Linked DNA regions of Homo sapiens: region 2 is linked to region 1. The links come from fine-mapping of genetic effects on gene expression. Tissue or cell type: whole blood. Region 1 holds a variant in brackets; the other region holds the start of a gene. All regions are shown on one strand. Distances are between the middles of the regions.

Region 1 (8,183 bases):
GACTACTTGTCCCCTTACTTTTTCAGCTGTTGACACTTCTGTTCATATGAACTTGTGGTTTCTGTACCAAGAACATCCAGATCCCTTTTCCTTCTGGTCAAGTGTTACCTCCTTTAAGATGTGGCTGAAGCAACACCTCCTTTTCCTTTTTCAAAACCTTTTTTCTTGAGATACAGTCTCACTCTGTCGCTGAGGCTGGAGCGCAGTATATACACACATACACTTATACACACACACAAACATTTATTTTTATTTAGTTATTTTTTGAGATGGAGTCTTGTTCTGTTGCCCAGGCTGGAGTGCAGTGGCACAATCTCAGCTCACCACAACCTCCGCTTCCCCGGTTCAAGTGATTCTGCTGCCTCAGTCTCTCGAGTAGCTGGGGTTACATGTGTACACCACCAGGCCGTTAATTTTTGTATTTTTAGTAGAGACAGGGTTTCACCATGTGGGCCAGGCTGGTCTTGAACTCCTGACCTCGGGTGATCCGCCCGGCTCAGCCTCCCAGAGTGCTAGGATTACAGGTGTGAGCCACTGTGCCTGGCCATATATTTATTTATTATTATTTTTTGCGACAGAGTCTCCCTCTATTGCCTAGGACGGAGTGCAGTGGCATAGTCTCGGCTCACTGCAACCTCTGCCTCCTGGGTTCAAGCGATTCTCCTGCCTCAGCCTCTCGAGTAGCTGGGACAACAGGGTCATGCCACCATGCCCGGCTAATTTTTTTATATTTTCAGTAGAAACAGCGTTTCACCATATTGGCCCGGCTGGTCTTGAACTCCTGACCTCATGATCTGCCCGCCTCGGCCTCCCAAAGTGCTGGGATTACAGGCATGAGCTGCTGCACCCGGCCTGTATTTTATTTTAAAACAGAGATGGGGTCTTGCTATGTTGCCCAGGCTGGTCTTAAATTCTTGGCCTGAAGTGATCTTCCCTACTAGGCCTCCCAAAGTGTTGGGATTGTACACGTGAGCCACTATGCCCAGCCCAATTATGTCCTTTTCCTGATACCTTCTCCATCTTCATGGGCAGAGTCATCTCTTCCCCTCTTGCTCTCTCAACCATTCATTTTACCAAATAGAAGGGCATGTATTCACATGTTTGTTCCCTGCACTAGGCTGAGAGCTTCTGCAGGCAGGGACCATCATCTTAATTTACCTTTGGATCCCAGTGCGAGGCTTGCATTTAGGGTTTCAGTAAGTATGTGTGAAACAGAGTAGCCTCTGTTTCTCTGAAATAGCCTCTGAAAACAAGTCTCTCAACAGTTTCAAGGAATGGATCTCGCAACCTTCATGAACTCACTAAGTGCTTCCATTGAGAAGTGCTCATTATTTCACGGGGATGAAGAACAGAAGCACCAAGCTGTGTTAAAGTGAGGAGTCAGTGGCCAGTGGGGCTCACTCTCTCGCTGTGTGACCGGCTCTCTTGCACAGCAGAAACAAATGCAAATCCATGAATTTTCATGACTGAAACCACAAAGTTAAATTTGTGACTGCCAACACCTACTATATATAGAATATTAAAGCAATTTAAAAGAGCAGATAGAATAGCTTTCCATAAGAAAGATACTACAAGAAGGAAGATTATCCCATGTTAACAGCAACCTTTGCATTTTGTGATCTGAGGACCTGTTTAATTCTATCACAGGATCCTATGCTGATCTCCTATATCATGACCCTGTTAGCCCCAGAGGCCACCATGAGGTAGGTACATTGTAACGCCTCATTAAATGACTGCTGAGGGCCCAAAGGGTGTCTCACTTGCTTTCCTAGCTGGGTGCATGCAGGATGCTGGGAAAATACAGTTCATAATTTTCTCAGGGTACGCTTACACGTCATAACGAAACAAATAAACATAATGAGACAGTCTCTGTTTTCATAAGGAAATCTCCAGCCAATGGTCACCTCTTGGGATAGTATTTCACTGGCCAGAGATGCAAAGACGTGTGAACAATTCTCTAACGTCATCCTTCCAGGTTACTACAGCCATGCCAAAGACACGCAACATAGGCATTAAGGCAATCTGAGACTGTAAACAGTGGTTAGCTAGCTCCTGCACGCTTCCATGAGGCCTCATTAAGAAGGTCTAAACTCAAGTGAAAAATAATGGCTTACTTTAATTGGGGCTTTAGAGGCTTGTCTTCTCCCTTTTATTTTCCTTCCTCTCTCTGTAATTTCCATCTTCTTGGTCCTTATGCTCTTAAGCTCACAATAGTAAAATTCCCACATTTCTGGTGCTCTCATCTCGGTCAAGAGACCAATGAATAATTAATTTATCCCAAGCCATGCCTAGCTAATATTAGCTTAATATGCTACAACTCCCATGGATATTTGCATTTTAAAAGAAAATATTTGAAGATGCAAGGCAATGAAACGATTCTTGGTAAGGAACATTTTATATACATATCACTTGGAAGAAATGAAAGCTCTTTCTTCAGAAATAAACTTAAAGCGGCCAATTTTAAGAATTAAAAAAGGTGTTAAGGGGGCAATTAATACTTTTACTTTGATAATAGAAAAGGCTGGGATGGGAGGAGGCGACAACAAACAATAAACAGTTGGAAGCTGTGAAAATTGATTTCTGGAGCAATCCCACAAGTAAAAAGTAAACATTTTTCTCGAACTAGAAGGAAACACCAAATTCTGATTAAGCAAAATTTATGTACTAGCACTTGAATTTAGTAGTAAAGGTACTCTTAATATTTACATTGATTCAAATATTTCCCAAAATTGGGTATTATAGTCCTAAAGTTAAAAAAAAGAGAAGATTCCTAGTACTTGGTTGACTACTGTGATAGGATTTTCCCCCTCACCATTCTTTTCACTGGAGAAAAGATCTACCATTGAACCTACAGAACCAGACATGACGGCAGCCACCTCAAGTTCAGTTCATTGACCACCAAAGAGGCTGTCTTTGCTAAGGGAGTTATGCTGGCCACCTGAAACTGGCTGATGCGGGCATGTTAAAATTCAGTTCTAAGCTATTGTTTAATGGGTATAGAGTTTCAGTTTTACAAGATGAAGAGAGTTCTGTGGATGGACGGTGGTGACGGTAGTATGACACAAATATACTTAGTCCTGTACTTAAAAATGGTTAGGATGGTAAATTTTATCTGTATAACAATCTGAAAAAAAAAATGAGTTCTATTTCAAAATGTGTCTTTTAAATCTTCATAAATGAAATTTCCTAGATGTTCACTTATCTGGGGGAGCTAATATGTCTAATGATCAAAAACATACACAGTACCTTAGGTACAAGTATACCCATTATTTAGGCAGGAGCACTTTTTTTCTCTCTATCCAAAACATCATGATTTCCTGTGCCACGGATACATTCAGAAACTGAAATATCTGATTTTGGCAGTACCAGGAGACTGGCAAATCTAGCTAGTAAAATATTTTCATTTTTTTACACATGACTAAAAGCTACATGCAGTTTGAGATATCTTCTACCTTTTAAAATAGCTGTGTAAAAGGAGGTAAGAAATGATAGTGCACACTGGTGTTAAGAACCTTGTCACACATCTTGTACTGTCCTCAGTATAGCATTCTCTACATTCCAGAGACCCAAGGAAATATGCAACATAAATGAGTACAAAACCTACCATAAGCACTGTTTCCAGAAGCCACATTAATCCTTATAGAACTTCCAATATAGTTTCAAGTAACTTTGTTCTCTTCTCATCCTTCATACCCTTCTAACTTATTATAATCCATCCTAGTCCTTAGGTGTTCATCGCCTAGCACCATTTTTTATTTGATTAAAAATAGCTCATCCTGCCCATCACTGACAGAGTTACGAAATTTAAAACTTCTGGAGAGTTCTCTCCACAGTCAATGGATTGAGATGATTACTGAGTTCCAGGAGAGCACTCCTGGAGAGACACAGGAAAGTCTTACCTTGCTTGTTCCAAGGGATGCTAAAAAAGGTTACTAGCTTTCATAGAAAATAGCTTCTAGATGGCCCTCCCCAATTTCCTTGGGGTTCCAAATTTTAGATACTAAGATAAGGACAAAGCAAGCAGTGTTCTCCTTGGCCAGCAGCATGATGTTATCATAAATAGAGCAGGCAGCAAATAAACAGGCAATCAAGGATTCCAAAATGCCACATGCAATATCTCTTTTATTTAGTCTGATCATACATGACAGGAAAAATAGGACCTTATTCATA[G/A]ATTTGGAAAGGAATAAAGTTGTTTTACTGAGTTAAAGTTAAAATGGCATATATTGTTTCTCATTAAAGCAATAAAAGACAGCTTTTAAATTCTAAAACTAAATACTTTCAAGTTTTTAAGTGTTTTCAAAATTACTTTTTTGTAGACAAGAGTCTTGCCTTGTTGCCCAGGCTGGAGTGCAGTGGCATGATCATGGCTCACTGTAGCTTTGAACTCCTGGGCTCAAGCAATACTCCCACCTCAGCCTCCAGAGTAGTTAGGACTACACAGGTGTGTACCACCATGCTTAGCTAATTTTTAAATTTTTTTTTGTGGAGATGGGGTTTCACTATGTTGCTAAAGATGGTCTTGAACTTCTGAGCTTCAACAATCCTCCTGCCTTGGGCTCCCAATGTACTGGGATTCCACTGTACCTGGCCCCAATTTTTTTAAAAAAGGAACCTCTAATGAAAATTATTACTGCTGAATTTTTACTCTGGTTTACTGTAGTAAACACAGAATGAGTTAAAATAAGAGGAACTACTTAGGGGCATATCTGAATTCATGTGAAAACTGCTATCTTTAGCTCTGTCCTCACTAAATGCTTCAGAATATGACTATAAATCATTTCCAAAGAAGTTATGTACTGTACAGCAAACATTTCTGCTAGGTTTATAAATAAACCTTAATAATTATGCAGGTGATCCAATAATAAACATACACAAAGGTGTGTCAGCCTCTGAAAGATATAACATGCTGACTAGGGGCACATACTCCAGACCCAGATTGCCCTGAATTTGAATCTCATCTCTGCCATTTACTAGTTGTTTGTCTTTGGGCAAATTATTTACGTTTTCTATGCCTCAATTTCCTATTCTGTAAAACAGAGATAAGAGCATCTACACTTCATATGAGGCATAAATGTGTTACTTGTAAAGTACTTGTAATAGTGTGTGGCACATAAAACTATATAAGTATTTGTTAAATAGAAACTCAAAACAAATTCCATGGACACTGTCTCAACAGTATTTTATGCACCATCAACTTGAGTAGTTAGAAAAGCTATGGTTTGGCCATTTCAAGCATTCATGAATGCAGCAGATACACAGAACCAAGAGATGTTACAGTTTAAGAAGCAAAGCCATTCTCAATGGGCTAGGGTGTGAGGAAGAGGGACAAAGCTTAAAAGCCAACCTATGGGAGACTGACTGGAAATCGAAGAGCTGGAATCAGAGCGCTTTATTTTACTCCCAGGATGGTGAACTAGAATAAAAAATACGTAAACAGAAAGAAACAGACAGGGCAGGAAACGCAGAAACTAGTCAAGAAAGACAAATTGGCAGACAGTGGGGGAGCCTCCTGTGCACCCACATGCAGCTCTGCTAACAGGAAAAAGGCAAGGACATAGCTGAAGAGGATTTAGCAATTGGAACCGGTCATCTCTTCCCTGTTGCAGTCCCCACACACCCCCTAGCTGCAGATGCCACCACTCATGCTCATATTAAATTGACAGTCTCCTTATGCTTCTGGGCTGGTGGGCCAGCCTTTTCACATTTAGCAGAAAGACACCCCATGGTCTTGCTTAGGTGGCCACCTGTCTTAGAAGTGAATGGGCTCACATGTAGGTGTCTTTATCCTTCCTCCTGGTCCAGGGGGCTCACCAGTTCTTCCCTGTATGAGAAGGGCCTAACACTCTCCCTGAGTATCAGCCACAGGAATTACAGGCAAAGGGATCTGAGGCACTAAGAGGGAACCTAAAGGGCTTCACTGGGCTCCTTTCTAGGATAGTGTTAATTTAATACCCCAAACAAACATTCGAGTAACACCAATACACTCTTAATTCTCATTACTGCATTCCTCTAGACCTACCTCCCCAAATAGCATCAACCTCTTCAGCTTTTTCTCCCTGGCCTATGCTGGCACCCCTGAGTTCTAATCTGTGCTAGTGGGATGACACCTGGGCAGCTTAACAAAATAAAAAACAGACAGACCCCACCATCAATGCTTCCTGTAAGCATAAAAGATCACTGCTGGGGGCATACCTAACACGTAATTCATGCTTAGAATGGTTCCTTACCTCGGCAGGGATCATTTTTCACTAAAAATTCATCCAAGGCCATCCATCCTCCACCAACGCGAACCATCACGGTGCTGCGCAGAATACGGACCAGCCGCAACTGCTGAGAATCCCCAAACTGTAGAATCAAAGGAAACTTAATTAATATATATGTCTTAAAGCAGATCTATGTTTTTCTCCCAAAGCAGACTGTATTCAGACAGGAATGACAATTTGATAGCTACAGAAGAATTGTTAACTCTCACAATTTTGCATTTTTATATATTTCACAAAAGGATTTTAAAAATAGAAAAGCAGAAATATCAAGCTAAAGACTGGTGTCTTGATATACTTTTTTCTTTGTGAGACAGAGTTTCACTCTTGTTGCCCAGGCTGGAGTACAACAGTGTGATCTCAGCTTACTGTAACCTCTGCCTCCCAGGTTCAAGCAATTCTCCTGCCTCAGCCTCCCGAGTAGCTGGGTTTATTAGGCGTGTGCCATCACGCCCAGCTAATTTTTGTATTGTTAGTAGAGACGGGGTTTCAACATGTTTGCCAGGCTGTCTTGAACTCCTGACCTCGTGATCCGCCAGTCTTGGCCTCCCAAAGGGCTGGGAATACAGGCATGAGACACTGCGCCGGGCCAATATACTTTCTATTGGGATAAAAATCACTTTTAATGGTCACACCACTGCCTCTGCACCAAAAGGAGAGGTAGGAAAACAGACAAAGTGTTAGGTCACTTTATTTTTTTAAAAGAGATTCTGCTCAATTAAAAATTCATATTCTTGGCATGCTAATTTGTTTTCCTAAAAGAAAGATTGTGGATATCAACTTCTGAATACAGTATGCTTTAAAGCTAAATGGAAAATAGTGAATACTATTTCAAGCCTTAAGGAAACCTTTGCAAAGCATCATTACAAGCTTAGAAGAAAATCTGATTTTCTGCATCAGGTTTTCAGGAATTAACCCGAAGTATTTGCTAATTGCAGTGTCACCAGCAGAAAAGTTTCTTCAGCTGAACAAATGATTAGGTCATATTTATACTAAAATTGAGTTGAAGCAATTAAAAATTGTAGCTCCCATGATGATTATGAACAGTATCCAATAATCATTTTAGATGCTAAAACAAGCATATTTCTGATTATTTATGTTTTCCCTTTTTTCTTGCCCAAACATTCCTACTTCCCAGCTCTAAACATCTGGAGTTTCTCATGGCATAAATTACCCTCTTTCCAAAATGAAGTAAGGAGCAACAAAAGAGAAGTATGCAGAGTTTCCAAAACAAACAAACATCTGGTAGGAGAAATGGAATTCCTAAAATCATTCAATTCAAGGGTTCCTCGGGTATGGAGTTGGTAGGATTTTCTTTTTCTTTTTCTTTTTTTTGAGATGGAGTCTCGTTCTGTCGCCTAGGCTGGAGTGCAGTGGCGCGATCTTGGCTCATTGCAAGCTCCGCCTCCTGGGTTCATGCCATTCTCCTGCCTCAGCCTTCCGAGTAGCTGGGACTACAGGCGCCCGCCACCAGGCCGGCTAATTTTTTGTATTTTTAGTAGAGACGGTGTTTCACCGTGTTAGCCAGGTTAGTCTCGATCTCCTGACCTCGTGATCTGCCCGTCTCGGCCTCCCAAAGTGCTGGGATTACAGGCATAAGCCACCACGCCCGGCCAGGATTTTCAAAGTTATAAAGGACAACTGTAACTTTAAAACAAGGCAGAAAAATTGAAAATGCAAGAAAGGATATCTGAGGTCATATAGCCATCCTCCCTCAAAATTAATATACTTGTGGTAATTCTCCATATTCCTTAGCTGCTCTGACTCAAATGCAGTATTTGCACAGGCAAGGCAATTGAAAAATACTGTATCCTCCCTCCCAGCCCTTTACTTTGAAAATAAAAGAAGTCCCACACCTTTCATCTGATACAATTTAAACATGTTTATACAAAGTGACTGCAGCAAAAGCACTGTGTGGTAGCA
Region 2 (8,183 bases), 110 kb before region 1:
GGGCATAGTGGTGGGTGCCTGTAATTCCAGCTACTTGGGAGGCTGAGGCAGGAGAATCACTTGAATCCGGGAGGTGGCGGTTGCAGTGAGCCGACATCACGCCACTGCACTCCAGCCTGGGTGACAGAGCAAGTCTCTGTCTCAAAAAAAAAAAAAAAAAAAAAAAGGCTGGGCGTGGTGGCTCACCCCTGTAATCCCAGCACTTTGGGAGGCCGAGGCGGGCAGATTACAAGGTCAAGAGATTGAGACCATCCTGGCCAACATGGTGAAACCCCATCTCTACTAAAAATACAAAAATTAGCCAGGTGTGGTGGCACGCACCTGTAGTCCCAGCTACTCGGGAGGCTGAGGCAGGAGAATTGCTTGAATCCGGGAGGCGGAAGTTGCAGTGAGCCTAGATCGCAGTACTGCACTCCAGCCTGCCAATAGAGCGAGAGTTGGTTTCAAAAAAAAAAATAGCCAGGTGTGGTGGCGCATGCCTGCAATCCCAGCTACTTGGGAGGCTGAGGCATGAGAATTGCTTGAACCTGGGAGGCAGAGGTTGCAGTGAGCCGAGACTGCACCACTGCACTCCAGCCTCGGTGACAGAGGAAGATTTCATACCCCCCCCACAAAAAAAACAAGAAAACACACACACACACACACACACACACACACACACACACAAACATATATTGAATATTTATTTATCTATTTATTTTTTAGTAACAGAGTCTCACTCTGTTGCTCAGCCTGGAGTGCAGCGACATGATCATAGCTCACTACAGCCTTCAACTCCTGGCCTCAAGCGATCCTCCTACCTCAGACTCCCAAGTAGCTGAGACCACAGGCATGTGTCCCCACACCCAGCCAATTAAAAGAAAATTTTTTTTTGTAGAGATAGGGTCTCACTCTGTTGCCCAGGCTGGTTTCAAATGTCTGGGCTCAAGCGATCCTCCTGCCTCAGCCTCCCAAAGCACTGAGAGTATAGGTGTGAGCCACCTGCCTGGCCAGTTACTGAACATTTAGTACGTGCTATGTTAAGCACTATTCTAGATTCCTGTTCTCATGAAGCTTATATACCAATGTGGAAAAGATAGATACTAAACAGGTAAACAGATATAGAACAACATAATTTTGGGTAGGAATAACAGGCTTGAAGACAAGAAGACAAGTTGGTGTGATAGTGATTAACAATGTTGACGGCTACTTTAGACCACAGGAGGTCTAGGAAGACTTTCCTGAGGAGGGAATCTATAGAAGGAGCACTCCCATAAATGTTCCTTTTTTTTTGAGACGGAGTCTCGCTCTGTCACCCAGGCTGGAGTGCAGTAGCATGATCTCAGCTTACTGCAACCGCTGCCTCCTGGGTTCCAGCGATTCTCCTGCCTCAGCCTTCCAAGTAGCTGGGACTATAGGCACGTGCCATCATGCCCGGCTAATTTTGTATTTTTAGTAGAGATGGGGTTTCACCATGTTGGCCAGGCTGGTCTCGAACTCCTGACCTCAGGTGATCCGCTCACCTCAGCCTGCCAAAGTGCTGGGATTACAGGTGTGAGCCATCGTGCCCAGCCAATGTTTCTTGATTTAATATAGTTATTAGAATATAAACTCCATGAGAGAGGGAGTGACTTCTGGTCCACCATGGTATCTCCAGCCCCTGTATTGACATTGGCATAGAGTAGGCTCAGATTAACCATTTATTTGAATTAATTAATATATAAATACACATATTTCTTTAGTCATTTACTTAAATCAGTGCTTTTGAAGGGGGATGTCTGTGTCTTTTGGCAATTTCTGTTTTTGGTTTTCACAGTGATGGCAAAGGTGGTTCCTGGCACTTATGGAAGAAGGGATGCTATATATCTTGTAATGCGTGTGGACAGTCCCATATAACATAGTCCTATAAAGTGATATGACTTTTTTTTTTTTGAGACGGAGTTTCGCTCTTGTTGCCCAGGCTAGAGTGCAATGGCATGATCTCAGCTCACCACAACCTCTGCCTGCCGGGTTCAAGCGATTCTTCTGCTTTAGCCGCCTGAGTAGCTGGGATTACAGGCATGCACCCCCATGTCTGGCTACTTTTTGTATTTTTAGGAGAGACGGGGGTTTCTTCATGTTGGTCATGCTGGTCTCGAACTCTCGACCTCAGTGATCCGCCCGCCTCGGCCTCCCAAAGTGCTGGGATTACAGGCGTGAGCCACCACGCCTGGCCTGTGATACGACTTTCAAATGACCTGCCAGACTCTCATGCAGATGAAAAGTCTTTTTATAATTATCCAAGCCTAGAAGAAACTTTAAACATAGGAACAGAAAGTATTTCTGTGCCCTTAAACACAAACTAAATGTCCGGGAATGCCACCAGCATGTCAATAGAGGGGATGCTTGTGTTTGGTTTCATTGAAGCTTTACCAAAATGTGCTCATCTTTTCAGAAAATCCCATCACCCATGGATACTGCTTGCATTTCTAGTTCCTGACGATTCTACCTCTAGGTCAACGGTATCCTGAAAACTTCTCAAATCTTTATTGTATTTGGACCCAGACATTTACCTATTGGACCACCTATTATTTTATTTTAACTTATTTTATGTCACCTTCATTTCACAATTTGGCATACCATTTAATTTTTTTTTTTTTGAGAGGGAGTCTCACTCTGTTGCCCAGGCTGGATGGAGTGCAGTGGCACGATCTTGGCTCACCGCGACCTCCGCCTCCCGGGTTCAAGCTATTCTCCTGCTCAGCCTCCCGAGTAGCTAGGACTACAGGCGCATGCCACCACGCCCGGCTAATGTTTTGTATTTTTAGTAGAGACGGGGTTTCACCGCGTTAGCCAGGATGGTCTCGATCTCCTGACCTCCATGATCCATCCGCCTCGGCCTCCCAAAGTGCTGGGATTACAGGCGTGAGCCACTGCACCCAGCCCCATACCATTTAATTTTAAACCTCATGCGTGTGTGCAGGTTAAATGGCTCCTAGGTTCCATTCCCGGGTGATGGGTGGGAGGGTGTTAAGATTTATTTGTTATAGAAAGGGGCCCTGGGGTCTCCCGCAGCCGCGAGCTGGGCGGTCCTCCCGGCGCCAGGGGTCGCTGTAGCGCCGCGCGGCCGCGCCGGGTCGCTCTCGCGTGGCCGCCCCGCCTCGGGCCCCCGGGCCGAGTGGGCGGGCACGACTGCGCCCAGGTCGCGAGGCGCCCTTCGACCAGCAGCGCCCGGGGCGGGCGGGTATAAATGGAGCGGTGGCTCCCTCGGCCGCCTCTCTCCGCCCCGGGTCGCTGCCGCCTCCGCCGCTTTCGGGCTTCGCAGCCTGAGGAAAAAAAGAGAAAAAGATAAAAAAAATCTGAAAACGCTTCAAAATCCTGAAAAAAAAAAAGGAAAAGAAAAAACGAATCCTCGGAGAACCCGCGGGGAAGTCACTTTCGTACGCTTCCGGCCTGCCCCGCGCCCGCCGCCGCAGCGCTTGGCGTCCGTCGGTCTCCGTCCGTCGGTCCGGGGGTGAGCCGCCCGCCCGGCCCGCCGTGCCCTCCCCCCGCTCGGGCCCCGAGCCCCGCGCCCCGCGCCTGCCCCGGCGCACCACGTGTCCGTGCTGCCCTTCGCCGCCCGCCCGGGGCTCGCCGAGTCGGCGCCCACAAAGATTTGGTTTCCCTCTGCCCCGGCGGTTGTAATCTTAAACCGCCGGAGCCCGAGGCCTATATTTATAGAGAAACGCGTGTCCCCGAGGCCGCCGTGGGCAGCGTCCGGTCGCCTCTTAAAGGATTTTTACCCTTCGGAAGGGGATTCCCCGTTTAATTTTTTTCCTACTTTGATTTTTTGAAATTTGGAGCTTCGCACCAGGACCGCGGAGAAGTGCAAAGTCGCGGGGAGGGCCGTATTGTGCGGAGAGCCTTTTGTCTGCGGTGCTGCGGCCGTGGGAGCCGGCCCCCGCCTCCCGTTTCCGTCCCGTCTCCAAGCCCGCCGACTCCAGCTCGTCCTCGCCGCGCCGGTGCCACCTGTGAGCCGCGGCGCGGGCCCGGGCTCCGAAGGCGCCCCTTTGTCCTGCGGCGGGCCCGATAAGAAGTCCTCCTGGCGGGGCTCGGGGTGGTGGGGGGCGGGGAGATGAACGCTGCGGCCAGCAGCTACCCCATGGCCTCCCTGTACGTGGGCGACCTGCATTCGGACGTCACCGAGGCCATGCTGTACGAAAAGTTCAGCCCCGCGGGGCCTGTGCTGTCCATCCGGGTCTGCCGCGATATGATCACCCGCCGCTCCCTGGGCTATGCCTACGTCAACTTCCAGCAGCCGGCCGACGGTGAGTAGAAGCTGTGCCCACACGTGCGTGGGAGCCCGGAGGACCCCGGGAGTCGTCTTCTGGCAGGGCCCTCCTGCCGAGGAGGGCGGCATCACGACAGCATGTTGCCACCGAAGCTGGGAGCAGGGTGCGGAGATTGAGAACGCGGACCTGGCATCAGATGACTCGAGTTTCAATCTTGTTTCTACCACTTGCTAACTGGGTGACCTTGGGCTACTTATTAGTGTTGCTGGTAGTGGGGTTGGAAACCAAGGAGACTGTAAAACAGGATTAGAGTGAAGCCACTGGCATTCCACTGCGTGTGGTCCTTGTCAGTGGGGCTGGGCTGTTAGAGATCCTTGCTTGTGCCCCTCACAGGCTGGCCAAAAAGGCGGGACGTTTGAAACACAATTCCCCGCGAAAGTTTTACATTGTAAAGCTCCTGCCCGCTCCGCCACCTTTACTAACCTTGACTACCTGATGTTGTGCTGATAAAGGATCAGTCAGGGCAGGCAGGAAGCAGGGGGAAGGTTTCTGTGCGTTAAACTTTCGCAGAGACTTAGGTTAGTGCCACAAAAGCTGCGTGTGCCAGGCCACCTCCTTGGTCTGTGTGTTTGCCACTGGAGTGGAGAAGTGCTTTACTCTGGACAAATGGTATCCAGGCTCTGTGCTGTAGAGTGTCGTGGAGGTAGTTTAGGGAAGCGTCACTTGAAAATCTGGTGTCATTTGTCACCTCAGCTGTAACAGTGCTTTGCACTAGTCAGAGCCCTTTTATTTCATCTAATCTGAAGAAAATGGGACTCCTGAGAAGGAGAACGAATGCAAAAAGTTGGAAGCCAAGTTAGGACTCCCAGCACAGTGCTCTGCCACCTCAGATTGTGGCCTTAGCGTGGAGCATGGAGAGAGGTATGCTGCAGGCGTGGCAGGAGGGAGGCCAGAGGAAACCTGATCAGAGGCTGCACGTGACTCCAGATTAAAAGGGAACAACTGCAGAGATCATTACTGGGAGAAACAAGCCATTCTATGGCAAAGCATCTCCAGGTCCCTAGTTTTGGGGTCCCCCCTTTGTTTTCTGTCTGAGGCCCAGAGTTACTACCTGCCCAGGTTGCGGCTGAGACCAGAGAATTGGACATGTTGAGAGGGACTAGGTATTGCTACTGTCAATCCAGTGTGCTCCAAGCTGAGTTCTGTCCATGGCCATAGGAGCGCAAAGGTAGCTGAGTGTGGTCTTTTTAAGGGATAATGTACCACATTAGCTGTTGTCTGCCTTACTGACTTTTGAACAAAAGTCGTGTCACTTAGAGATAGCAGAAGCTATTGGTCAGTGTGTCTGCCAACACATACTTCTGCAGGACTTCTCCCTGCTATAAATAAGTGCAGCCAGATTTGTCAGACTAAGCCGGCTTGCCTTGTGCAGTGCTGTCTGGAAATAGACGAGGAGCTGTTGTTGAAGTGGGCTCCTTTACTGCTAATTAATGAAATAGTTTGCGATCCCAGCTATCTATCTCTGATAGCCATCACAAGCAAAGTCCTCTTTCCCTGGACTGTTCCTGACTTGGATCGGTCTTGTCATCTCCCCTTTTCCCAACTACCCCCCACACAGATGAGGCCCACCTTCTGAAGGGGGTGGGGAAAGTTGTTGGAAATAATGAGTGAAAATAAATTCTCCCGGCTAATGAAACAGTTGAGCTTGTGGAGCGGCAGAGTTGGGGAATTTTGTCCCCCCTTTAAGTGAGATGTTGTCCTGAGGCAAGGAGCAGGTTCCACTGCTCTGACCCTGTCTAAATCCCCTCATGGAGGAGGTTCTGGGTGATGTCACCGTTAGGAGATGCCATCATAGCCTTAAGGAAAAGTGGCCACCAGATCTGGGCATCCTTGTTGCGATTAGTGATGAGAAGTGTTTTGGCTGGCAGGTGGTGTTATTTTTTAGCTTTTGGTTCTTTTTGTTGTTGTTTGTTTTGAGACACTGTTTCACTCTTGCTGCCCAGGCTGGAGTGCAATGGCGCGATCTCAGCTCACTGCAACCTCTGACTCCTGGGTCCAAACAATTTTCCTGCCTCAGTCTCCTGAGTAGCTGGGATTACAGGCACCCGCCACCATGCCCAGCTAATTGTGTATTTTTAGTAGAGATGGGGTTTTCACCATGTTGGTCAGGCTGGTCTCGAACTCCTGACCTCAGGTAATCCACCCGCCTTGGCCTCCCAAAGTGCTGGGATTACAGGAGTGAGCCACCATACCCAGCCCAGCCTTTGGTTCTTTAAATTGTCTCTGGTGTACACACGGACTTGGTTGGGAAGCTAAGGAAGCATTCCAAGGTGTTGGATGGGGAAGTTGGTTGAGCACCCAGGGTAGCTGAAGTCCTAGAATTCTACAGAACTTCCATTAAGGCTTCAAAAGGTGGGTGCAGGGCCTGCCATCTGCGCACTGTCTACTTAGGCAGAAGGTATGGTGGTTTTATCCTTGTGATAGTACAGAGAACTTTTCCATGTGTGATCAGTTGTGTCCATTTTGATGACTGATGCTTTTTTGTTTAAGTCAATTTCTGTTCTCAGAAATTGAAAATAAACTGGACTGAATTCTGAATTCAGGGATAGCACCTTTTTTTTTTTTTCCAGATCATTTGCTTTACAGGTTTTGTCACTTGTCTCCATAGGTGGATTGCAGACTAAATGACTTGATAACTTTGATGCAATACCTCACTGAAAAATAAATCAGATAATCTAGTATTAGTTTCGTAATTACTAGCTAGCTGCACAGCTTAGTTACCCTAAACATAAGTTTGTTCATTTTGTAAAATGTATAATTTCAGCTGTCCCACCTGAGTCATGGTGGGTGGTAGTCTGCAAAGTCTCTTCTAAGTGGTAAAGCTTAGTCAAATGTGAGGTATTATCACTGGATCTTGGTGTCATTAAGGCCATTTAGATTATCTTTACTTGTGGCCCCTTTATCCAACAAGGGCACAGACCCAGAAGGGTGTTTAGACTTCTGTCATGAAGTAGAGTCATTAGCTGGAACTTATGCTTCCCTTACTAACAGTGCAGGCTGGAGGAATCTGATGCCCTTTTATTTTAATAGAGTTGCCTTTTATCAAGAGTGATTACCTTGAAAAGTCCTGGAGTAATCTGTTCTTAGGCTGTTGGCCTGTGGGAGCTGACGTTTTCTCTCCTTATTGAAATGTGTTTCTCTCTTACAGCTGAGCGGGCTTTGGACACCATGAACTTTGATGTGATTAAGGGAAAGCCAATCCGCATCATGTGGTCTCAGAGGGATCCCTCTTTGAGAAAATCTGGTGTGGGAAACGTCTTCATCAAGAACCTGGACAAATCTATAGATAACAAGGCACTTTATGATACTTTTTCTGCTTTTGGAAACATACTGTCCTGCAAGGTAAACATTGATTAAATGATTTTAGCAGAATAATTAATTGATTCTTGAAAACAAGATAAATACCAAACAGAGAACTATCTTGGAATTGGGGAACAAGATATGGGAATTTTCAAAATGCTGGACATGGAATCCTAAAAGTTCCCATAGGTAATCTCAGGGCCATACCCAGCGTAACCAGCACACGCTTTCATACCCTTGTTCTTTACTCAGCCTGAAATATCCTTCCTATTCTTTAGCTTTGGAAAGCCCACGTTTTTCTTTTGGGATGGGGGAAAGTAGAGGACCAGAGAAGTGTCTCTAGTCTTGAGGAAACTTAATCACTTTAGAAGCATAAATTCACTCTATTCCTTCTACGTATCTGTTCTATGCTGAGCACTTTAAAACTTAAACGGTGGTGGTGTATATGTTTAATGCCATACTACACTGAAAATCTGTTGTGGCCTTGGAAAATGTTTTGTTTTCTGCATCACCGTGGTTTGCACCCAGATCTCTTAAAATGTGTTGTTGTGTTTTAAAGAGACAGAGTCTTGCTCTGTCTGTCACCCAGGGTGG

What was found. PIP is the estimated chance that this variant, and not a neighbour inherited with it, causes the effect.
Region 2: PABPC4 starts here. The variant in region 1 is fine-mapped to the expression of PABPC4 in whole blood (TOPMed, PIP above 0.99).

What each region holds. Positions count from the first base shown.
Region 1 is chr1:39,466,777-39,474,959 of GRCh38, reverse strand. MACF1 (microtubule actin crosslinking factor 1) reads right to left here. Exons shown (of 101, transcript NM_001394062.1): 96 at 6,228-6,345; 97 at 5,345-5,413. Among named protein-coding and RNA genes, the nearest start is that of BMP8A, 21 kb to the left of the region's middle. RefSeq lists a silencer at 6,706-6,846. The variant G/A (reference allele first, on the strand shown) is at 4,171.
Region 2 is chr1:39,571,841-39,580,023 of GRCh38, reverse strand. PABPC4 (poly(A) binding protein cytoplasmic 4) reads left to right here and starts at 3,234. Exons shown (of 16, transcript NM_001135653.2): 1 at 3,234-4,265; 2 at 7,438-7,631. The coding sequence starts at 4,073. PABPC4-AS1 (PABPC4 antisense RNA 1) reads right to left here. Exons shown (of 4, transcript NR_125979.1): 3 at 7,346-7,569; 4 at 6,821-6,943. RefSeq lists a silencer at 2,980-3,289 and enhancers at 3,790-3,859, 4,360-4,409, 4,430-4,549.